3 separate regions of the Homo sapiens genome follow, and all the other regions are linked to region 3. The links come from fine-mapping of genetic effects on gene expression. A gene starts in region 3. Each other region holds a variant in brackets. All regions are shown on one strand. Distances are between the middles of the regions.

Region 1 (8,184 bases), 140 kb before region 3:
TTTGCTTGAGAACTTTTGTAACGTGGAGAGTAAAAAGTATCGGTTTTATTCTTTGCTGATGTCCTTTCTGCTTGAAATAACAGTCACCATACAGCTAAAGGAGAGGAGTTTCTTTCCTTCTAAGTAGGCAGAAATGGTATCATTATGTTGCCGCTCTCCAATCTCCCAGAGCTCGCTCTCTAGAGAATCACCTTCTTTCGCTTTTTTTTTTTTTTTTGAGGTAGAGTCTCACTATGTTGCCCAGACTAGCCTTGAACTCTTGGGCTCAAGTGATTCTCCCTCCTCAGCCTCCCGAGTAGCTGGAACGAACTATAGTTGCACCACTGCAGCTGGCAAGAATCACCTTCTTTATAAAGCGTCAGTCATGCTTCCAGCAAGAGGCAGCATCAGTCATGGCTTTATAACAGCTTCATGGTGCCTCAAAGACTGTTGAGGTTAATGAGAGCCTAGATTAGACAGTTTGGCTGTCCTTCCCTAAAACTTGTTTTCTCCTATTCACTACTCCCCACCGCACTTAAAATCTATGAGTTTTTACTTTTTACTGGGAATGGAAAGTGTGGTGAAGATCATTCAACACTTATGTTGTCATTTCTCCCATTTTCTGAATTTTTTTTTAAATTTCCCCCCTTTTAAAATTGTTCGAAAGCCCACAGTTATGGAAAGAATTACTGTCTAGATGGTCTGCAGAACGTGTTTGGGGTGAGTGGGAGTGAGGGGCAATGTTACTTTTTCTCCCTGTAGTTTGGAGTCCATTATGAGCTGCTGCTTTTTCTTCTCATCTTGTCATCTTCTGGGGATGTTTGAAGGCTGAGTTCCAACAGAATTCACAAAGGGAATAAAACAGGATTGAGATTTTGAGGTGTGCACAAGGTGGTAAGATAAAGGGCATATGAGCTTCAAAACTAATGCTGTTGCATACATGAAGCCTTTTGTTTTTTGAGGAGCTATTTTTGTTATTCTTGTAACGCTCCACCTTACATGCCACATCTGTGTGAGTCAACAGGGATCAGGTTTGGTCACCACACATGTCTGAAGCTGGGCAGCGTCTGCTCTGTGTTCTGTGTGGAATGGAGAAAAAAACGCCTGCCCTGCTGCCTTCCATGTTCATAGGCCCAGCCCAAGAGAGTGACACACAGTGCTGGCCCTGAGACATTTCCACAAAGTGGTCAACTCTGCCTTGCATCCTAAAACTTTTTGGGCATCTATTTTGAAAACTATAGGAGCCTTTGGAAGGCCTCTTATGTTTGGAGGGGAAGGGTGTTGAGATTGTCACCATCCTTCAAGCTGAGACTCCTGGTGAGCCTTTGCCACCATGAAAACCACATAGCTGACCAGGGCTGTGCTTGAGGTACAGAGGACACACATTGTAGACAGGCCTGTGTCATGTTTCCTTACAGTCGTTTTTTACAGAGAAAAGGGGCATTGTTTTTTCACTGCTTTCTCAACAGTTCCTGTGAATAAATGAAACATTTCGGAGCTCCCTGAGAGCAAGAGCCTTCACTTCTTCTTGCGGTGCCGGGACCATGTGTTGGTGAAGCTGGTGCTGTGGGGGCCACTCACTCGAATGACACCTGGAGGCCTGTTCCTCCCTTACCACTCCCTTCCCCAGCCCGACTTCTTGGCCTCCTGCCCAACCAGACACCTCAAACTCTGTCAGTGCCCTGGCATTCTGGCAGAGAATCCTCACCAGTTCTCACCAACCTTCCCCCCAGGCAAGGGCAGCTGCCAGCATGGTGCTCTGCCAGGACAGGTTTCCCTGAAGGAAGCTGCTCACACTGAGATGAGCCTCTCAGGGCAGGACCTCTTCCCAAGCCCTGCACACCCACCCCTGCAGCCCTTTTGGCTCCCCTTTTCCCTGTGCCTCAGCACTCCTTTCCTGGTTGCAGATAACGAACTAAGGTTGCCTAAAGGGCAGATCTGCCCTCTCCATGTCTTCGTCCTGGCAAACAGGGTCGTCTTAAAATTATGCGCTAATTCTGTATGGGAGCACTCAAAAGGCATTACTTAGAGATTGAAATTTCAAACTATCTCTAGTTTTTCAATGGAAATATATCAGCTAGGGAAAAACCATCAAGCTCATTATTATTTTTTGATCTTCAGTTGTATTTTTGTGAATATTTTAATACATCTTTTTCAATTTCTGAATTGTGTTGTGTGCTCATTTTGACCAGAATAGAAAAAGAGATATGCCTTTCACTCATATCATTCCAGCTACACCTGCCTTCTTTTCTTCAAAAATGCCGTCCGTGTGCCTGCTTCTGGGCCTTTGCACATGCTGTTCCCTGGGCCTGAAGCATGCCTTCTGCCAATATTCCTGTGGTTTGCTCTCTGACTTCCTTTAAGCCTCTGCTCAAATGTTACCTCCTCAGGGAGACCTTCTGTGATATATAAAAGAGCAAGCCCCCCACCCCACCGCCTCAGCCTTCCTGGCCCCCTCAGTTCTGCTCTAGTTACTCTATTTCTCTCCCTCTTTCCCAGTACACACTTGTCTGTTCTCCCGCATTAGAACATAGTTAACAAGAGACCAGAACCTTGCTGTTTTGTTCACTGCTCCGTCTGCAGTAAAGGGAACAGCACCTGGCACTTAGCTGCTCAATACATGTTACGTGGATGGATGAGTAGGTGGAAGCATTCATCCATTCAGCAACCTACACTGAGAACAATCCTGTGCCAAGCACTGTGCTAAGCATAAGGAAACAAAACAAGACAAAGCTCCTCAAGGAGCTTGCCACAGGGTGGAGGTGACAGGTGACATGAATGGAAGTAACTAGTAGTTACCAAATACTTGGTGTGAGCCAGGCACTTTGCATTTCTTTCTCTATTATTTCTGTGAGTTAACAGTAATTGTACTAATCTTAATCCCATTGTTTGAAAGATTATATGGCTTACCCAGGGCCACTTAGCTAATAAAGGAACAGAGAAGAGGGGCTGGGCCTGGGGCCGCTGTTTGATCCACAGCCTTGTTCCTAACCACTATGCCCTGTGGCCTCTCACACCAAAAGGAAGTACCAAACTGCTTCCTTACTCAAATAAATGTGCTGAAATGCAGTTGCAGTTTTCTCCCAGTCCCTTAGGAGCTGGTTAGAGAGTCCCTTAGGAACTTGAGAGGGTAGTGTAGTCTAGGTGGTAGGCACAGATGTCTGAGAGCTTTAACCTCAGTCTGGAAGACAATGTGGTGACTTAATTTGTTGAGAACTATGTTACAAATAATGTGTTACTAATAAAACATTGAGGCTTCGCAGTGACTTAGTAATTTTATAAATTACCATGGATTCACAATGAGCCCCTGCCTTGCATAACTTTGGGCTTGCAAAACCTAATGCGTTCTTGAGTGGGAGAAGATGAGTTACAGCTGGCAGGAACTCCCCTGGGAGTAATTCTCACATGTGAACAGCATCCATCTTGCGTGATGTGACAAAAAGAAAAGGGATGCTTCCTTCACCACACAAGGGCAGCAGTGAGTGATGGAATCACATTTTTGTCATCTCTGCAATTCCTTCCAAGTCAGCACTAAGTGTCGGAGGGCATCCACCT[G/C]CTGGGGCTCTGGTTTCCAAGCTACATAGGGGCCTTGCCAACCAAAGATGGACTTTTTATTTATGAGAGCAGCTTCCACCCCTGAGGGAGCTGAGTTGAGCAGTGTTTAGAGGAAACTCAGATACTCTCTCACCCCAGTTGGCTCCCTTCTGACCCCTCTGGGTAGTTCCTGTGCTAACTGGACTGGGGAACCACTGACTTCATCCTCCCACTGTGCAGGAAAGGCGAGGGAGCAGCCACGGGGAGGAAAGTGGCATCTGTGGTATTGGTAGAGCTGGTGGTAGGAGCCAACCATCTGCTTTTATGGCGGGTTCTCCCCTGCACTTTCCTCTTGCATAGTCAAGATATTGTATGAACAATTTCAATATATTTTGTTTTTTTGTAGAATTACTTTAATGAAATTACCCTTTGATATAATTTGAAAAAAATTTTTTTTTGAGACAGTCTTGCTCTGTCATCCAGGCTGGAGTGCAGTGGCATGATCTTGCCTCACTGCAACCTCCACCTCCTAGGTTCCAGCGATTCTCCCACCTCAGCCTCCCCAGTAGCTGGCATTACAGGCACGCGCCACCACACCCGGCTAATTTTTTGTATTTTTAGTAGAGATGCCCGCCTCAGTCTCCCAAAATGCTGGGATTACCGGTGTGAGCCACTAGGCCCAGCCCCTTTGACATAATTCTATCAGCCTACATTGAAGTATGTCATAAAAAAGAGTCCTAGGAAACTAGCTACTTATTGTACTTTACTGCCAGCATGGCTTTGAGAACGTTATTCCCTGTCATACATTTTTCAATGTTATAAAGACCCACAGCACAAATATCTCTCTGGATTTAATACCAGATGATATGGTTGAGATCTGTGTCGCAGCCTAAATCTGTCGAATTGTGATACCCAGCATTGGAGGTGAGGCCTGGTGGGAGGTGATTGGATCACAGTGGGTAGATTTCTAATGAATGGTTTAGCACCGTCCTCCTTGGTACTGTTCTCGTGATTGTGAGTTCTCATGGGACCTGTTTGTTTAAAAGTATGCAGCACCCTCCCACTCTGCTCTCTCGCTCCTCCTCCCGCCACGTGAGACGCCTCATGAGAAGCCTCACTACCCCTTTGCCTTCCGCCATATTTGGAAGCTTTCTGGGGCCTCACCAGAAGCCAAAGACGCTATGCTTCCTGTGTAACCTGCAGAACGGTGAGCCAATTAAACCTCTTTTCTTCATAAATTACCCAGTCTTGGGGTTTTGTTTTTGTTTGTTTTTTGTTTGTTTGTTTGTTTTTTGAGATGGAGTCTCACTCTGTCGCCCAGGCTGGAGTGTAGTAGCACGATCTCGGCTCACTGCAACCTCCACCTCCTGGGTTCAAGCGATTCCCCTGCCTCAGCCTCCTGGGTAGCTGGGATTACAGGCATGCGCCACCATTCCCGGCTAATTTTTTTTTGTATTGTAGCGGAGATAGGGTTTCACCATGTTGGCCAGGCTGGTCTCGAACTCCTGACCTCAGGTGATCTGCCCGCCTTGGCCTCCCAAAGTGCTGGGATTACAGGCGTGAGCCACCACACCTGGCCTTCAGTCCCAGGTATCTTTTATAGCAGCGTGAAAACAAGTAATACACCAGGAAAACTGTTTCTTATGAATATTTTGTTTCAAACTAGTCATGTGCACTGACTTGTCACTGATTGTATTTGTCTCTTTGCTTTTGCTATTCTCTAGGTCCTAGCCAAATTTGTGGGTCACTTTCTACCACTGTACACAGATTGTACACTCCATATACACTTTGTACATTAACTTTACTCATAGCTTTATGTGTATCTTGGATTATGTTCAGCTCTATGATCTGTCTCAGTTTTTTCCAGTGATACAATAATAGATGTGTCCTGATTTAGATAGAGAAAGTAGGTAGGCAGAGATTCTGGCCATGGCATCAGAGATTCATAATGCCAACCACAGACTTACTCTTGACTCCACAAAAACCATTTCACAAATTCCTATTGTTGCCCAAAAGAGGTGAAAATAAAAGTATATGACTGGCTGAGTGTAACAAAACTACATGACAGGAATTACGACTCACATACAGCCTGGAGTCACCTTTCTGTTACACCCTGTTCATCAGTGATGGAAAGGCAGCTTCCTATGTGCTGAAAGTTCATCTCTCTTATTGCAGGTATGATTTCCACTGGTATTAATGAGCTTGAAATATGAAGGCCACTTAAATTTCCCAGAGGTGTCAAGTGATGTGGGGATTTCAGAGCATGTATCAACTCACTTCAGCAATATTAGCATTTTTGTTTGAAATACCCAGTTAGACAGGAAACTTGAAAGATAATTGTTTCAATTATTTGTATCATCATACTGAAAATTGCTTAAAACGTTCTGGTTGTTCCTTGAAGACATTAAAAGAATAGATCCTATTAATGCCCCATAGGTTATTTGATCCTTTTGGAAATGAAAAGATTGACTGATGATTGATTGAATTTTCTGCTTTTTATTAAATTGGTGAGATGGCAAAAAAAGAAAAATGTAAACATATACAAAAGAAGAGAGAATAGTAAAATCAACCTGCATACACTTATTATCTTCAATACTTATTTTATCCAGCCCCTTTTTTCTTTTTTCCTCTTTTCTGAATTATTTTAAAACAAATCCCAAAATCATGTAAGTGCACCCCTACATTCTTCACTGTGCATCTTTTAAAAATGTGGACATTTTCTTACATAATCACAATATCTTGTCACATTTAACAAAAACCTGTCCTAAAACACATTTTTTACAAACAAAATCCTTGGTTTTATATATTATTACCCAGTTAATATTCAAGTTTCCCTTGTCTTAAAAAATGGCATTTTACAAGTGGTTTCTTCCAGTCAGGATCCAAACATAGTTCTGGTAAAGTTTTTTTTTTTTTTTTTTTTTTGCCTATTTTTAAACCCAAAATGGGATCATGGTGCTCTGCAGTTTGCTTTCTTCCCTTAGCATTATGGCAGAGAAGTTTCAGCATGAAGAACTAGGTCATTAGATAATAGCACCTGCAGGACTTTGTCTTTTGTAGATGCGCCGGAATATTTTAAACCATTTCTTTTTTTCTTTCTATTTTAAACAGAGTTTCACTCTTGTTGCCCAGGCTGGAGTGCAATGGCGTGATCTCAGCTCACCACAACCTCCACCTCCCAAGTTCAAGCGATTCTCCTGCCTCAGCCTCCCAAGCTGGGATTACAGGCATGCGTCACCATGCCCTGCTAATTTGGTATTTTTAGTAGAGACAGGGTTTCTCCATGTTGGTCAGGCTGGTCTCAAACTCCCAACTTAAGGTGATCCGCCCACCTCGGTCTCCCAAAGTGCTGGGATTACAGGCATAAGCCACCGCAGCCAGCCTTTGCATTTTAAACCATTTCTGATCTTCTGGATAGGTTGTTTCCAGTTGTTTTGTTATTGGCTATTACAAGTAGTGCTGTAATTGTCATTTGCCTTCATGAGCTATTAAGGAAGAAAAGCCAAATAATTTGCAGGCTCAGAGAAGCAACACAGAATCAGTCACGTCCTTGGCCTTGGAAATGGGATCTAATATCTGAGAGCGATGAAAGTGGCTCACAAGCTCCCCTGCCCTCCTCACATCCTTCCTAAAGCCATCAGGAGCTGGCCACAGAGCACACTGGCTGCTCTCAAGTTTGACTGAGTCTTGGGTTGTTAGAAAAACAACTGGGAGTGGAAGGCAGGAGGGAGCTCTAGAATCCACGGGAGACCTGGCTGTGTTTGCAAAGAAGAAAACATAGACGTAAAGCCCAAAGGGGTCCGTAGGGAACTGCTGCTTCCAGCTTCCATTTCCTCCTGCAAACAGGATGTGAAGCTATTGTCCCTTCTTGGCTCAGGCTTTTGGATTTGTTTGTCCATCCATTTCTTCACTGTGGCCTTTGTGGAGCTGGCCTTTAGTGTTGCAGAATATAAGGAAGGGCTGGGTTTGTTTGTTTGTTTGTCTTTTAAAATCTCCCTACCTCTGTGAAGAGGATGTGGTGCAGATTTGCTTTCAAGCCTTGCCCTCCGTGCTGTGGGGCTGACAAAATTCTGGTTACTTTGCCCTTCAGGGCATTAAATGATTTCAGGTATTTATACCTGAGTCACTGCTCTGCTATGGGAGCGGGGGATAGAACAGCTAAAAACCATCTTAAGGCCTGAGGTTTCTCATTCTGTGATAAGGACTCCAAGGAAACTGAATTTCAATACTAGAGTACATTGTTGGTTCTTTCTCTGCCTTTGAATAGAATTATTTTTTAAATTACAAAGTTTCTTTTAAAAGAAAGAACTTTTAAATATATTTTGTAGGGAATCTCTTAGAAGGTACAATAGATTCATAGGAATGTGGAACATTTGGCCGGGTGCAGTGGCTCATGCCTGTAATCCCAACAATTTGGGAGGCCGAGGCAGGCGGATCACTTGAGGTCAGGAGTTAAAGACCAGCCTGGTCAACATGGTGAAACCCCATCTCTACTAAAAATACAAAAAATTAGCCGGGGGCGGTGGCATGCTCCTGTAGTCCCAGCTACTCGGGAGGCTGAGCGGGGAGAAGGGGAGAATCACTTGAACCCAGGAGGTGGAGGTTGCAGTGAGCTGAGATCGTGCCATTGTACTCCAGCCTGGGCAACAAGCGAGACTCCGTCTCAAAAAA
Region 2 (8,184 bases), 73 kb before region 3:
ATTTCCAATTGTTTTTGCTTTTTCAAGGTGCTCATCCTGGAAATCTCCCGAGAAATAGGGAACTGTACAAAGAATTATGAGAATATTGAGTATGGGAAAATAGCAAAGGGAACTACTGGCTATGCAACTTTGGGCAAAACACTTAACTATTCTGTGTCTTAAAATCCTCATGTGTTAGATAAGTGGTCCCAACCTTTTTGGCACCAGGGACTAGTTTTGTGGAAAACAATTTTTTCATGAACTGCGGCAGAGGGGATGATTTTAGGATGATTCAGGTGCATTACATTTATTGTGCACTTTGCTTCTATTATTACATTGTAATATATAATGAAATAATTATACAACTCACCATAATGTAGATAGAATCAGTGGGAGCCCTGAGCTTGTTTCCTTGCAACTAGATGGTCCCATCTGAGGGTGATGGAAGCCAGTGACAGATCATCAGGCATTAGATTCTCATAAGGAGCATGCAACCTAGGTCCCTTGCATGCACAGTTCACAATAGGGTTCAGGCTCCTATGAGAATCTAATGCTGCTGCTGATCTGACAAGAGGAGGAGCTTAGGTGGTAATGTGAGCAATGGGGAGTGGCTATAAATAGAGATGAAGCTTCACTTGCTCACCCACTGGTTGCCTCCTGCTGTGTGGTCTGGTTTCTAACAGGCCATGAACTAGTACCAGGGGTTGAGGACCCCTGTGTTAGATAATTCAGGAAAAGACAGGGCACAGTCTGCACTGGCATCACTTGTAGGAACAGAGTGACTTTGTGTCCCAGAGTAGCTAGTATAGCTATGATAGAAAGGTAAGAAAAAAATTAGTCAGCAGATGGCCATTTGGATTTTCTTGAGTATGATATTTCAAGATACCTCTAATATGTCAAGAATGTTGATGCACATCCAGAGAGGATTGGGAGCCATTTACTCACCATCTGGATACTGCAGATATACAGACCAAAGAGATGCTAAGTCACAATGCACCAGAGAGGAGTTGCTGTGCCTGCCCATGGCTATTTGTGCAGAAGTATAATACTAGCTAGTTACCTGAACATGGAAAATGTCATTAAGAAGACAGTAGAACTTTTCATCCAACAGTGTCATGACTTTATTTCGAAGGTTGGTCTGTCGTTCTTTATAATGTTTACAAGTGTCTAGGCCTAGGACATTGGCCATGAACATCTGGATGGTATAGAAAGTTTGATGGAAGCTGATCTTATTCAATGAAATGGCAATAATCCTGTTTGTGAGAAAATCAAGAAACAGAAGAGAGTTTTTAAATATATATTTTTGAAAATAATAGAGGTTGAAGGAAAGCTCTGTCTTCTCATATTCAGCTATAATGATGGAGATTTTCCAAGCTATCTCGCAATGGTTCTTTATTGCTGCTTCTGATATACTCCCTCTTCTCCTGTTCCTAAGCCCTGATTAATTTAACCTAGCTAATTCTCTCCTTTCTAGTCCTACTGCCACCCTATACTACCACAATAGCAAGCCACTACCCCCATCCAGGTCATGACCCTCTGACTGGGAGCTCCCATTGCCTAACGGCATGAACCCAGGCCTCCTTTATGTGACACACAAGACTTTCCAAAGCCTCATTCTATCCTTTCTTGCCACTCTCTGCCTAGCAATCTACCCTTCACCAACAGCAAGCAGGTGAGAGTTCCCTGCACACCCAGAGCTATTTCTCCTCTCCATGCCTTTGCTTATGCTGTCTCCTCAGCCCAGAGTGCTATGGCTTCTCATTGCCCCTCATTTGAGGTTCATCTCAAGTCTCAGCTCAGGTGTAGCCTCCTGGAAACTGTCATCAATGTCCTAAGGTTGACTACATACCCTTTCTTCTCTGAACTTCCACAATTCTCTATTGCATGACTCTATCGTTGCCCTCACTATATTCAACTTTTAATGCTATCTGATATGGTTTGGCTCTGTGTCCTCACCCAAATCTCATCCCGTATTGCAACCCCCGAGTGTCAGGGGAGAGACCTGTTGGGAAGTGATTGGATCATGAGGGCGGTTCCCCCCATGCTGTTCTCATGATAGTGAGGGAGTTCTCATGAGATTTGATGGTTTAAAAGTTTGGCACTTCCTCCCTTGCTCGCTCTCTCCTGCCACCATGTAAGACATGCCTTGCTTCCCCTTTGCCTTCTGTCATGATTATAATTTTCCTGAGGCCTCCCTAGCCATGTGGAACTGTGAGTCAATGAAACCTCTTTTCTTTATAAATTACCCAGTCTCAGGTAGTTCTTTATAGCAGCGTGAAAACGACTAACACATTATCTCTCTCCTCCTCTTCTGTGAGAGCTCCTTGAGGGCAGAGAGCAGACTTTATTGATATTCAGGGCTTTGGCACTTGTTGACACATGTCCCCACAATTCATATGTTAAATTCTTAGCCTCTAGGGCCTCAAAGTGTGACCTTATTTGAAAAGAGAGTCGTTGCAGATACAATTAGTTAAGATGAGATCATGCTAGAGTAGGGTAGGCCTCTAATCCAATAAAACTGATGCCCTTATAAAAAGGAGAAATTTGGACACAAACAACACACAGGGAGAATGCCATGTGACATGAAGGCAGAGATTAGGGTGACGCTTCTACAAGCCATCTTTGGAACACCAAAGATGGCCAGCAACCACCAGAAGCTAGCAGGTGGGCATGAAACAGATTCTTCCTCATGGTCCAGAGAAGAAAAGATGCCTTGATCTCAGACTCCTACCCCTGAGAACTATGAGACAAATTTCTGTTGTAAGCCATCCATTTGTAGTACTTTTTTACAGAGGCCCCGGCTAGTGAATACAGCACTTAGTAGTTCCTGAACATAGTAGGAATTCAATTAATGATTGAATACATGAATAAACAAATGTCTTCTGACTGTTGTGAATTATCCCTTCAGCAATGATAAAGATATTTTAAAACTGGCCTTTCTCAGGCCTAACTTTAATGTGGGATAGAGATACAGCTAAGAATATTATAAGATTAACAAGCATTTTCCCCTCACACTGTTTAGGTTAGGTGGGGAAGGGATATGAGTCACCATCATTATTGTCCTGGTCATCACCACTGTTATTGAATACCATACTATCTACTTCCATGAGGAAGTAGAATGGATTGTCCCAAAGATAGCCCTCATAATATTCCTTATATGAAAATAAATAAACAACATGAGACAAGTATATTAGATCTGTCTTCCAGGGAAAAATCCAAAGACCTCTTATTCTCTATCTCCAGTCTTAGGACTAAATGGTTTGAACTAGTGATTCCCTGTTGAGGGAAGAGACAGACCCTCTCATATTGTTTTATACTCAGAAAAGGAAAGAAAAGTGAAATTAAAGGCAGATAGCCCGGCGCCTAGGAACCAGACCCGAAACCAGGCCTGGGCCTGCCTGACCTAAGCTCGGTAGTTAAAATTCGACCCCTGACCTAGCAACTGTTGTTATCTATAGATTCCAGACATTGTATGGAAGGGCATTGTATGGAAGGACATTGTGAAATCTCTCGTTCTGTTCTGTTTCACTGTGACCACCGGTGCTCACAGCCCCTGTCACGTACCCCCTGGCTTACTCAATCGATCACGACCCTCTCATGCGGACCCCCTTAGAGTTGTGAGCCCTTAAAAGGGACAGAAGTTGAGCATCAGACGAGCTCGGATTTTGAGACGCTAGCCTGCCGATTCTCCCAGCTGATTAAAGCCACTCCCTTCACTATCTCGGTGTCTGAGGGGTTTTGTCTGCGGCTCATCCTGCTACATTTCTTGGTTCCCTGACCGGGAAGCAAGGTGATTAACAGATGGTCGAGGCAGCTCCTTAGGCGGCTTTAGCCTGCCCTGTGGAACATCCCTGCTGGGGACTCCAACCAGCCAGAGTGACGCGGATCCTGAGAGCTCTCCTGGGTAGGCATTTGCCCCGGTGGGACACCTCGCCAGAGCAGTGTGTGGCAGGCCCCCGTGGAGGATCAACAGAGTGGCTGAACACCGGGAAGGAATTGGCACTTGGAGTCCGGACAACTAAAACTTGGTAAGACTAGTCTTTGGAACTTGCCCACTCCATTTGAGTGGAAGCATGGCCTGATCACCCACGGCGTGCCTTTATCAGCACTTGGTTTTGGTTTTGACTTGGTTTGAATTACTTGACAGGACTGGTCTTGGGAACTTGCCCACTCCATTCCCACTCCATTTGAGTGGAAGCATGGCCTGATCTGATCACCCACGGTGTGCCTGTTCCGGCACTTTGGTTTTTGTTTTTGACTTGACTTAGATTGCTTGATACTTTGGTTTTGGTTTTGACCTGGCTTGGATTTCTGAATACTCTGATTTTGGTTTTGATTTTGGTTTAGTGTAAACTGCAAAAGTGTGTGCGTGCCCTTTTTACCCGTTCTTTGTTTTGTGGTGTGCATGTGGTGTGAGAGTGGTGTTTTGTCTCGAAGAAACATGGGTCAGGCACAAATAAGCCCACCCTACTAGAAACTATGTTGAAAAATTTCAAGAAAGGATTTAAGGGAGATTACGGTGTTACTATGACACTAGAAAAACTTAGAACTTTGTGTAAAATAGACTGGCCAACATTAGAGGTGGGTTGGCCATCAGAAGGAAGCCTAGACAGGTCCCTTGTTTCAAATGTATGGCACAAGGTAACCTGTAAGCCAAGGCACACAGACCAGTTTCTGTACGTAGACAATTACAGCTGGTTTTAGACCCCCTTCGCCCCCACAGTAGTTAAGAGAGGCAGAAAGAGAGGAAGAAACAGAGGCAAAAGGAAAGTCAAAGAGAGAGAGAGGGAGAGAGAGAGACAGAAAGTCAAAGAGAGAAAGAAAAATAGAGAGAAATATCCAAGTAGTTAAGAAAAAAATAGTGTACCCTATTCCCTTTAAAAGCCAAGGTAAATTTAAAACCTAAAATTGATAATTAAAGGTATTCTCCGTAACCCTGTAACACTCTAATACCACTTTGTTGTTAGTGTAAA[C/T]AAGGGCGTATCCCGAAAGCACTGAGGCCTTCCTATCAAAAATCCTTAACCCAGTAACCCACGGATGGCCCAGATGCATTCAATCTGTAGCAGCAGCTGCTTTGCTAACAGGAAAAAAAAAAAAAAAGAGCTGTGGGAAGGCAAAATTTATGTAAAAAGAGTGTTATATGGTAAATTCTTGTCTTGAAATAAATTAACTGTTGTTTAAAGAAAGAAATATTTGTAATAAGTCAGAAAGTTGAGACATGTCAAAGAATTATCTGCGAAAGTCATAGAAAACGATGTTATAAAAAATTTATGCAAAAAATATTGTATAATTTGAAAGTAATAAGGCCTCCTGAGTACTATTGAAGAAACAGTTTATGTGCAAGGTGCATAAGAAAAGTAAAATATACTTTTGGTAAAAAGATTAGAAGGAGGCATAAGAATGTGGATTTTTACCTACATTAAAAGGTTAAAAAAATTATTGTTTTGAAAGTTTAAGCAAGTTTTAAAATGTTAATTGTAAAAAAAAATTCTGTGTGTAAACTAATTAGCTAAAGATAAAAAGGTATCATCCAGTTTTTCTGTGAACTGGACATTAAAGTAAAAATGCAACAGGTTTTTCTTGAAGCACCAACCTGCTCTTTAACAAAAATTATAAAAGGTTAAAAAGAGTCTGTAAAAACTTACCTTATGGTCAAACATGAAAAATTGGATAAATATGTCTATGAGGTTTTATTAAAATTAAGTTTAACATTAATAACACACTAATATAAAGGTAAAATTTAGCTTATCTGGTATAAAAATCATACAAGAAGTATTATTAAATATAAAATGGTGTTTAGCTTTCTTTGGTCTAAAAACTAATAAAAATAGGTCCTAAAGGAAACATTCATTTTACTAGAGGATCATAGAAGTTAAAGACTTAAAACAAACTTTGGCAATTAAGACAGCATACCAAGATGCAAATGCCTGGTTGAAATGGATCAAATATTCCATCTGCACATTAAACAAAAGCAGTTGTTATGCTTGTGCACATGGCAGGCCAGAGGCCCTCATTGTCCCCCTTCCACTAAAGTGGTCCTCCAGTCCACCAGGCGTGGGCTGCATGGTAGCTCTTTTCCAGGATTCTACAGCCTGGAGTAATAAGTCATGCCAAACTCTCTCTGCTATCCCTGTGGGTCAGCCCCCGAGGGCCATCCAGCCTCCGTCTCCCAACACTAAGTTCACTTCATGTCTCTCACCACAGAGAGGAAACTTAGGATTCCTTGGAGACCTGAAGTGATGCAATGAGCTTAAGAATTTTCAAGAGCTTATCAATCAGTCAGCCCTTGTTCATCCCCAAGCGGATGTGTGGTGGTATTGTGGTGGACCTTTACTGGGCACTCTGCCGAATAACTGGAGTGGCACTTATACTTTAGTCCAGTTGGCTATCCCTTTCACCCTGGCATTTCATCAACAAGAGGGAGGAAAAATAAGACATCGTAAAGCGAGAGAAGCCCCCTTATAGGTCTTTCGACTCTCACGTCCATTTAGACGCAATTGGAGTCCCACGAGGAATACCAGATCAATTTAAAGCTTGAAATCAAATAGCTACAAAATTTAAGTCAATATTTTAGTGAGTGATGTTAATAAAAATGTAAATTAGATAAATTATATCTATTACAAACAACAGCAACAAGCTTTTCATGAGTTGAAAGAAAAACTCAGGTCGGCCCCAGCCCTGGGGCTACCTGACCTGACGAAAGTGCACACTCTATGTGCCAAAAAAAAAAAAAAAAAAAAAGGGCCATCTATACCAATTCTAAGTTAATTTAGACTAAACAAGGTCTTACTCATAGCAAAGGATAATTGAAATCCCAAACTTACAAGGTTTTCAACAAAAGTAAAGTTTGCTAAAAGTTAACAGTGTAACATGTATTATAGTAACTTCTAATCTTGTGGCCTTAGACAGTCTAGTCCACAGATATAAAGAAAGTTCACTTAAAAAAAAAAAAAAAAGAATGGTTATCTTCAAAAAAAAAAAATGGCAGTTGGAGTTTTAACCCAGACTGTAGGGCTCTGGCCAAGGCCAGTGGCCTATCTCTCAAAACAACTAGATGGGGTTTCCAAAGGCTGGCCCCCATATCTAAGGGCCCTGGCAGCAACGGCCCTGTTAGCACAAGAAGCAGATAAGCTAACTCTTAGGCAAAACCTAAACATAAAGTCCCCCCCATGCTGTGGTGACTTTAATCAGTACCAAAGGACATCATTAGCTAATGAATGCTAGACTAACTAGATACCAAAGCTTGCTCTGTGAAAATCCCCACATAACCATTGAAGTTTGCAACACCCTAAACCCCGCCACCTTGCTCCTGGTATCAGAGAGCCCAGTTAAACATAACTGTGTAGAAGTGTTGGACTCAGTTTATTCTAGTGGGCCCAACCTCCAAAACCATCCTTAAACATCAGTAAACTGGGAGCTGTACGTGGATGGGAGCAGCTTCACCAACCTCTGCAAAGTGACTCAGAAAAAGCCCTGCTCCAGTCACACCCGGAAGCTGACTGGTCCACGCACGGCCGAAGCATGAGAAAACTCATCACGGGACTCATTTTCCTTAAAATTTGGACTTGTACAGTAAGGACTTCAACTGACCTTCCTCAGACTGAGAACTGTTCCCAGTATATACATCAAGTCACTGAGGTAGGACAAAAGATTGCTACAGTCCTATTATTTCATGGTTATTATAAGTGTACGAGGACTCTAAAAGAAACTTGTTTGTATAATGCTATTCTATCCAAGGTATGTAGCCTAGGAAATAACCAACCTGATGTGTGTTATGACCCATTTTAAGCCTCCAATGATCACAGTTTTTTAAAATAAATTAAGGACTGGTCCTTTTCTAGGTGACACAAGTAAAGTAATAGCTAAGACAGAAGAAAGAGGGATCCCCAAGCATGTAACACTAAAATTTAATGCTTGTGCCACTATCAATAGCAATCGGCATAGAATAAGATGCGGTTCTTTAAACTGAAAAAAAAAAAAGTTACACAGCAGGAAATAAGTATATCTGCCACGAATTAAGCTCATGTGCAAATGTGTGTAATTACTGGTCTTGTGTCATCTAGGCTACTTAGAAAAAGGATGAAAAAGACCCTGTTTAGCTCCAAAAAGGAGAAGGCAGCCCCTCCTGTACGAGTGGAAGCTGCAACCCCTTGAAATTAGTAATTACAAATCCCTTAAACCCAAGGTAGAAAAAAAGAAGTACAC
Region 3 (8,184 bases):
GGAGTCACATATTTTTATAGTCAGGTGGGGGATAATGCGGGGACTGACATCCTTTTTTGTGAGTTGAGGAACTTGACCAGGACACACATTTGGCTAGAACTCTATTCCTTCTCTACAGTGGCAGATCATGACATGCCAGCAAAAACACATAGGCAAATGGATAATGAGAGCCTCAAAATTCTGGCTCACAGGTCAGAGATGCAATACTGTAACTAAAATATGTATCTATACATAAAAACACATTAGTTTTTTTTTTTTTTTTTGAGACAGAACCTCGCTCTGTTGCCAGGCTGGAGTGCAATGGCACGATCTTGGCTAACTGCAACCTCCACCTCCTGGTTTCAAGTGATTCTCCCGCCTCAGCCTCCCAAGTAGCTGAGATTACTGGCACCCGCCACTACACCCGGCTAATTTTTGTATTTTAGTAGAGATAGGGTTTCATCATGTTGGTCAGGCTGGTCTCAAACTCCTGACCTCAGGTGATCCACCCACCTCAGCCTCCCAAAGTGCTGGGATTACAGGTGTGAGCCACCGTGCCTGGCTAAAAACACATTCTTGTTACCTGTCGAGACATACAGTGTCAGTGATAAAATTAAATCTCAAAAATCTAGAATCAGCAATGTATGATTTCCAACTGTTAATATTGTAGCATTTCATATCATTTAATAAACTCCTTGTAGGTGAATCTAGAAAAATGTTTCAATGACAATTCAATAACAAATACTGTTAGGCAAAATAGTATGCAAAATCCTTGAATATTCACTCTGGATAAACTCTTAAGACAATAATCAGTGTTTCCTTAGATTTTATTCAATACTCATCAGTCAACGTATTTTTCAAGCTCCTCCATTTCTACACTGGTGTGCCTCCAACTTGTCGATCATAAATAATTCTGCTGTAATAGATATCCTTACTCTGTATGTTGCTCAAATTTTAGAACTGACAGTTATTGAGAGTCTAAGTGCAAACGCTGTGCTACATGTTTTAGAGACATTAGATCATCTGATTTTCACAACAATCCTGAAATGATTACAATTACTCCCATTTTATAGATGAGATAACTAAGGCAGGAATTTAGGGTCAAGGTCACACAGCCAAGACTGAAACGTAGGTCTATTTCCCTTCAAAGCCTAGCTCCTTTTACTACACTGAAAAAGGGGGTTAAAATAACTGAACGAATCCAAGGATTTTCAGGTGAAATGCACATCCTGCAAGTGAAAGGTAATCCCTCTTCATTCTGAAAGCTGAGTAGTATTTTAAGCAGTAATTACAGGTGGCTAAAAACTAAAGGCTTGGAAAGGATCAAGGTAAGACTACCCTCCAATTTTGTATTATTTTAAGTAGTTTAAAATTACTCTTACTCTGTCATGCCCTTATCCTACAGCTAAAACACAAAGCTTATGAAGGTCAGGGTTGACTTCACATTCAGTTGACTCTGTAAAGCCCAGATTATTACAAAAAGCATAGCTCAACCCTCCTTCCCGAAAATCTTTGCCACAAAACACAGCATAATTCCAAAAAAATTGAATGTTAAAAGAACTAAAAGGCAAATAAACAAAAACTTTTTAAATCAGTAACAAACTGTCCTTAATGATCAGTTTTATAATGGGTTCAATGTTGCAGTAAATAATATTAAGGGTTAGAGTATAATCCAGATGTTCAATTCATTCCATTATCAAACTGGAAATCAGATTTAGTAACCAGTTCAGACTCCAGAGAGCTGGTTCATAATCAGATAATGGGGGAACTAGACAACTTTCCTAATGATACCAACTACAGAATACAGATTTTAACTATGTAGGAGAATAAAAGCCACTTTTCGGGTAGCACTTCAGTCTTTCAATTTACAACACATTTTCTAGTTTGCCAAGTCTTAGGCTTGAAACAGACCTCAGAATATATCTGATGTTAGCCCCTAGCAAATAAGTATTATTACAACTCACTTTATAGAAGAGGTAACAGAATTCTAGATCTTTAATAAAGGGATTGGAATCTTTCAGTTTCTTACAGTTTTTTTTTTCAACCACAAGAACACAGTTTTCCAGTAGGCAAAGAGAGATGTAACGTTTACTGAGCATTTACAAAGAGTCAAGCACATATGTTATCTGTCATTCTCATAGACCGCGTATTACACAAACAGAGATCTAGGCTTTTGCTCAAGGTCACAACTATAAGTGGTAGAAGAGAATGATATCCAGGTCTGTCCACACAAAAAGCTCTGGGTAGAGCTTGTTCAACAATTTCATAAATAAGGATAGACTTAAAAAAACACACTGGACCTATGGGATGAGAAATGACACTGACTCAAGCCTGGATGAAGTAAAGCATGCAGTTTGGGGGAGGGCTCAGTCTGCAGGCCTCTGCCAGCAGCAGCTGAAGAAAGTGACCTTTACTCCAAACCCTACAGTGCGACAAACCACCCATCCAGCTCTGCCTAGAGTGGGTTAATATGCCACAATTCGAAAAGAGAAAGAGAATGAGTGTTTCATGGTGGCCCCAGACAGTTTGGTGGCCGCAGAAGTTGAGAAGGCTCAAATCTGGAGATCAGGTTTGGGTTGGAGTCGTGCGTAAGGGAGCGGATGTCACATAGGTGGGGAAGGGAGCTGACTTGAGATACGTTGGCTTAGGAAGAGATGTTGCAGGAGAGAGGGTGAAATGCACAGGCTAGGAGAGTAGACGGCTTCACTTGAAGGGAAGGGATTGGGGCTGTGGATGCCTCTAGAGGCAGTTGTCAGAGGGCCTCTAAAAGGTCCATTTTAGAGGAAGCGAGAAGGAAGGTCTCGATAAGGAGCCATTCAGGGTCCATTACCTGCTGGATGGTTGTACAACGGCCTCAATTTCTCGGGCAGCATCAGCTCCACTTTATCGAGGAGCCGGTGGTAGGTGGCCCGCAGGCCTCGGGCACCGGCGGCCGACATCGCCGCCGAGGGATCGTTGGCAGCCGGGTGGGAGCGTGGCTGTGTTCTCGTCCCTGGCTGACAACGAAGGGGAGCTAGTCACTTTTCCTGCCACGACGACTCGCGTCCGCCTCTCGCCTGGAGTACCCTTCCCGCGGCTTTCCCTGCCCGCTGTGAACCGAAAAGCTGCGGCCCGCGCCCCGCGAAGGTTGAGGGGGCGGAGGCTGCCGACTGCCAGCCCCCGGTCCGCCTCCGGCCCCCGGCAGGAGAGAGGGAGGAGCCATGGCAACAGGTGCCAAAATAATCACCTCACCAAGTCTGCGCTGCGCCCTGCTGGCAGCGCGCTTGCGCAGGCCGAGCTGCCCGCCATGATTGGCCCGCCCCGAGGCGCGGGCGGGGTCGAGCGGAAACCTCCTCCTTCTCCCCATGCCCTCGAGGCCATGTTGGAGAAGGGAAAGTGAAGCTGCGCTGGTTCTACTGCCCTTTCACTTTGATTAAGCAGGCCCGTAGTTAAAATGGGTTTTTGGGCCTTCAGTGCCTAAAGATGATGCCGCACAATTCTCTTGCTTCTTTTCACTGGAGACTCGTGAGCGAGAGACTACAGAATTGAGTAGCTTCTCTCTCTACTCGTCTTTTATCCCTAGCGACTTAAGGATCTGGTTAGAGTGGCCCGAATGCATTCTTCCAGGGTGAGGGCAGCCGCAGCACACACCAGCCTCAGTCCCCAGGGTGGTCGTCATCTCGCGAGAAAGGGTTGGCGGGGAGGGTATCCAGGACGAGGAGAGGGAGGAGTCGCCATCGCCTCCGCCTCCGCCTCCTCCTGTTGGAGGGGGGCTGAGGGAGGAGACTGTTGCTGATCTTTGGATGTTCTGGTTAGTCTAAGAAGGAGAGTATGAGGCGAGCTCCGGCCCGGGTGCGGCCGGGCTTCAGGGGCCCAGGCGCCGCTGCTGCCACCGCCATCTAACGCTGCGCCCTGGAGGCCCGGCGCGCGGATGGTGCCGGTGCGGCTCGGGTGTTGAAACGGGTGTCCCCTCCCCCTCCTCCCCTCCCCCACGCGGTGGTCTCCCCTCCCACCCGGCTCAGGCAGAGCCATGTCTCGGGGTGGCTCCTACCCACACCTGTTGTGGGACGTGAGGAAAAGGTCCCTCGGGCTGGAGGACCCGTCCCGGCTGCGGAGTCGCTACCTGGGTGAGCGGGGGCCCCGGGGCGGAGGCGCTGAGGTCGCCGCCTAGAGTGGGGGAGGGGGCACGCTGCCGGGTCTGTTGGAGGTGGGACGGCGTCTCGGTGGGGGCGCCCGGAGACTCTGGGGTGTTGGGTGGGGCCTTGGTTGCCGAATTCCGTGCCGGTGCCTCCCCCAGTCAAGCCCCCTGTGCATGCTGCCAGCCGCCGCCCTTGCTGGGTTTTTCTCGGAGGGCCGGGCCGTGGGCAGAAGGTACTGGCTTGTAAAGGTGTTGGGGTCGCTGATGGGTTGGGACTCGGGAGACTTGCGGAACCTCCAGGAGCTGCCGCGTTTAGAGCAAAAGTTAGCTCTTTTGCTCTTTTCCAGCGCGCTTTCCCCGCTCAGCCGAAGAACCTAAGTTGTTGCCCACCCTCTCCTTCAATCTCCAGAGGGTTTAGGTGTCGGCTGCGACGCGTTGACCACCCTCAGGGACTTCACGCTCCAGACAGAATCCGTGTAAACTGTTTTTGCGGCGCTGAGCCAAAACCTAAAAGTGATAGCTGAGCTCTCCCCACCCCCGCGCGCTCTCCCAGTTCCACTCTGCTCTTCAGTTCGTTTTGACCGCTTAAAGGTGGTGTAGGGTTTCACGTTCCTCTTCCCACCCCTGGAAAACACACTTGGCATTTACAGTTTCGTAGTTAAGCTTTCTAAAAACAACCTTCAGTACTTGGGGGAACAGTATTCCACTTTTTTCGTTTTGCATAACATTTTTTTTTTGAGGATTCTAGGTCACGCCCGAGTCAACTAAAAAGTTTGGTTTCTTAAAAATGGACGTACTTAGTAAAGGTCTTTTTTGTTTCTTCCTGTATACTCTTCATTACTCTTTCTTTCTATTTGGAGATACGGCAAACAACATCATAAAATTTTTTTCTTTCCAGTTTTGCCACTTGCTAGTTAAAAAGTGTTTGTTGCTCTCATTTGTTTTTGATTTCAAGTAAAGAGAAGAAAATGAAATCTCATTACAACCAACAGTTCTGGTTTGTAAATTATTTAAGAAAAGTTAGCATGCAATTTTTTAATTCTTTTTAGTGTCTCAAGTAAAATACGAATACATTTTGTTTATAAAAACTCAATAAAAATGAAGCAAAAATCCCTTTGATCCCTCCCATTCAATTTCACTCCGCCACCCTTAGAAATAATATTTTCTGTTTTCTGAATATTCTTCCAGACCTTTTTGTTTGCATTCTTACAAGTACATATGTACATGTACAAATGCTGGGGTGTGTGTGTGTTTGTGTGTGTATGAGAGAGACACCTGAGTGCATGGTGTCATATTGTAAACATTGTTTTCACTTCTCCACATTTTGGAGATCTTTCCATGGCAGTAAAAATAGATTGATTCTGTCTTTTAAATTATTACATAGTAGGTAACATTATGAAGTACCATAGGGTACTCAACCTTTCTTCTTTAAGTAGACGTTCGCCCTTACAGCATTTTAATGAACATCATTCTACAAGCTTCTGTGCATTTGTTGTAGGATAAGTACCTAGAGTGGTGATTAATCATTTTAAAATTGAACATAGCTGGAGTCTGGTTTTTAAAACTATTTACCAAAAAAAGTGTGCAGTATTTCTTTTAGAATTTATTTGCGGAGAAAGAACTTAATTTTAGCTTAATAAAACAAACGTTAACATTGTTTTGCATGGATACATTTATAATTTGGTCCTTTATCTCAGTTGGACAGTTTAAGTACTTGTATATAGTTCTATATTTTAGTGTTTTCTTTTGGTTCAGTTACTTCAGCTATATCTACAAACGAGTTAATTAAAATATAACAAAACCATATACCTGCTTTTCCCCCTCCTACTCCAACTCCCTAATGGAAATGGAATTTGTGTATTGGGTCTAGGGGAATTGAAGGGTTCACTGACTATATTAGAAAGCCTGAATTACAGTTTTTCAAATGTGTATGTATACATACAGGGAGTTCTTTATCTTAAATAATATTTTAGATATGATAATATATACTCTTAAAATAGGACATTTTTGGAATGACTTCCTTTAAAAGTGGTTTTCTAAGTACTTGAAAATACTTTTTGAAAGTATCGAAACTTGAAAATGTTTGCAAAGAACTAATTTATTGGCCTTTACCCTTAGTAGACCTTTACACTGTTATTCAGCTCTTCTATACTACAGTGCTAATCCTGGCTTTGCATTCAGGAAGCAGCAAAATCCACATTGGTAATGTTTGAATTAGTGATGGTTTTTTTTAAAAAATGACTTTCCCTCCCAGTTTTATTGGGGTATAATTGACAATTAAAAATTGTTATATTTAAGGTGTAGGACTTGATAACTTCATATACAATCAAGTTAATTAACATATCCATCATGTCACATAATTACCATCTTTTTTTGTGTGTGGCGATAAAATGACTTTATCATTATTATTAATTTTATTTTTATTATTAGATAAAATGACTTTTTAAAGTACAGTACTCTTGGCCGGGCGCGGTGGCTTACGCCTGGAATCCCAGCACTTTGGGAGGCCAAGGTGGGTGATCACTTGAGGTCAGGAGTTTGAGACCGGCCTGGCCAACATGGTGAAACCCTGGTCTTTACTAAAAATACAAAAATTAGCCGGGAGTGGTGGCGTACGCCTGTAGTCTCAGCTCCTTGGGAGGCTGAGGCAGGAGAATAGCTTGAACTTGGGAAGTGGAGGTTGCAGTGAGCCAAGATTGTGCCACTGCACTCCAGCCTGGGCGACAGAGGGAAACTCTGCGTCATAAATAAATAAATAAATAAATAAAGTATGGTACACTTATAAAGCCTTCCTTTTAAAAGTCAAATTCCAAGTTAGGATTTTCCTAAGGAAATAGATTCCTTTTTTAAAAGACTTCAATATTTAAACATTACGATTGTCTATCTACAGGGTTGTAGATTTAAGTATTTTTCTGATACATTTTCATTATTTGTATTTCTACAGATTTTTTAGCAGTGAATTACTGCTAAATAGTAAAATTGGGATAGAACAAATAGATAAATTTTTCTTGTAGCCTTTACATTTCCAGTTATTTCACCATAGCATGTGCCCTTTCAATGTTAATATTCAAGCTTTGTAATTGATTTTACTTAAACTGATTAATTATCTCCTTTCTTCCCATCAAAGAAAATTATACTTCAGAAAACTTCCTATTATGTTGTGGGAATGAAGATGAATAATTTCCCAGATGTTATTTATGATTAAAAGATATGTTTACTTAGAGCTCCCAAATCCACAAGATTCACCTGGGCCAACAGAGTGTTGTTTTAGACTAGCATGGATTTAGAGGATAGGCCAGGGATTTTAATCTTTGTGAGCCCTATCTAAATTTCAATGTAGGATTCTTTTTTTTGGTGGGAGGCGGGGGGCAGGGTGAGGCAGGGTTTTGCTCTGTCTCCCAGGCTGGTGTGCAGTGGCACCCTCATGGCTCACTGCAGCCTCCACGTCCTGGGCTCAAGGCCATCCTCCCACCTCAGCCTCCTGGAATTTTTTTTTTTTTTAAAGAATAATTATCAAAGTCAGAGATACCTGTAGGTTTAAATGTTTAAATGTAATAGTTTCTCAAATTACTGTATACTAGGTGTAGAGTAGTGCTTTTGGAAATCAGTGATTTATTAGCCACACAGATTTTATTATCCCATATATATACGGTTTTGTAAAGATAAACATTGTTAATAAAATAAACTTATTTCAATACATTGCTTGTTTCTACTCATATTTCTTTCCTTTTGGACAGACACTCCTACAACTTTCTAACCCTTCTAAATTAAAAGATAGTAATTGATAAAAAAGTAATTTTAAGGTACTTCTCAAGGGAGTTATTTATTATAATGTATAAAATGTGTAAATTATGATTAGGCAGCCAGTGACAATTTTTTAGTGGAGATTGAATCTCATCTTTTTGTAAGGAGTTTATGAAGTCAGTGTCCTTTGAATATCATTAGAGTCAGTATGTACTGAAATGGATAATTTTGCGTGTCGATTACTCTTTAGTGCATCTTGAATACATCTGCATTCTAGATTACCAGGTTCTTCATAATATGTTGCCAAGTTACAGTGTATTTATTATATGAAGATTAGTAACTTC

Alleles and levels. Alleles are on the strand shown, and positions count from the first base shown. SD is a standard deviation of normalised expression in the study named. Not every link is listed here.
With allele C in place of G in region 1, the expression in fibroblasts of the gene that starts at base 3,760 in region 3 is higher (small effect, 0.22 SD a copy in GTEx).

What was found. PIP is the estimated chance that this variant, and not a neighbour inherited with it, causes the effect.
Region 1: its variant is fine-mapped to the expression of DCAF6 in fibroblasts (GTEx, PIP above 0.99).
Region 2: its variant is fine-mapped to the expression of DCAF6 in whole blood (TOPMed, PIP above 0.99).

The regions. Positions count from the first base shown.
Region 1 is chr1:167,788,679-167,796,862 of GRCh38, forward strand. It overlaps MPZL1 (myelin protein zero like 1), which reads left to right. Exons shown (of 6, transcript NM_003953.6): 6 at 1-3,241. Among named protein-coding and RNA genes, the nearest start is that of MPZL1, 71 kb to the left of the region's middle. RefSeq lists a silencer at 3,905-4,053. The variant G/C (reference allele first, on the strand shown) is at 3,535.
Region 2 is chr1:167,859,832-167,868,015 of GRCh38, forward strand. ADCY10 (adenylate cyclase 10) reads right to left here. Exons shown (of 33, transcript NM_018417.6): 15 at 1,040-1,232; 16 at 1-62. It also overlaps a transcript of DCAF6 not described here. Among named protein-coding and RNA genes, the nearest start is that of ADCY10, 50 kb to the right of the region's middle. RefSeq lists enhancers at 1,510-2,026, 2,027-2,544. The variant C/T (reference allele first, on the strand shown) is at 4,953.
Region 3 is chr1:167,932,924-167,941,107 of GRCh38, forward strand. DCAF6 (DDB1 and CUL4 associated factor 6) reads left to right here and starts at 3,760. Exons shown (of 22, transcript NM_001198956.2): 1 at 3,760-4,085. The coding sequence starts at 3,989. It overlaps MPC2 (mitochondrial pyruvate carrier 2), which reads right to left and starts at 4,149. Exons shown (of 6, transcript NM_001143674.4): 1 at 4,016-4,149; 2 at 2,810-2,975. The coding sequence starts at 2,918. RefSeq lists enhancers at 2,776-2,885, 3,336-3,645 and silencers at 3,056-3,225, 3,826-3,895, 3,926-4,165.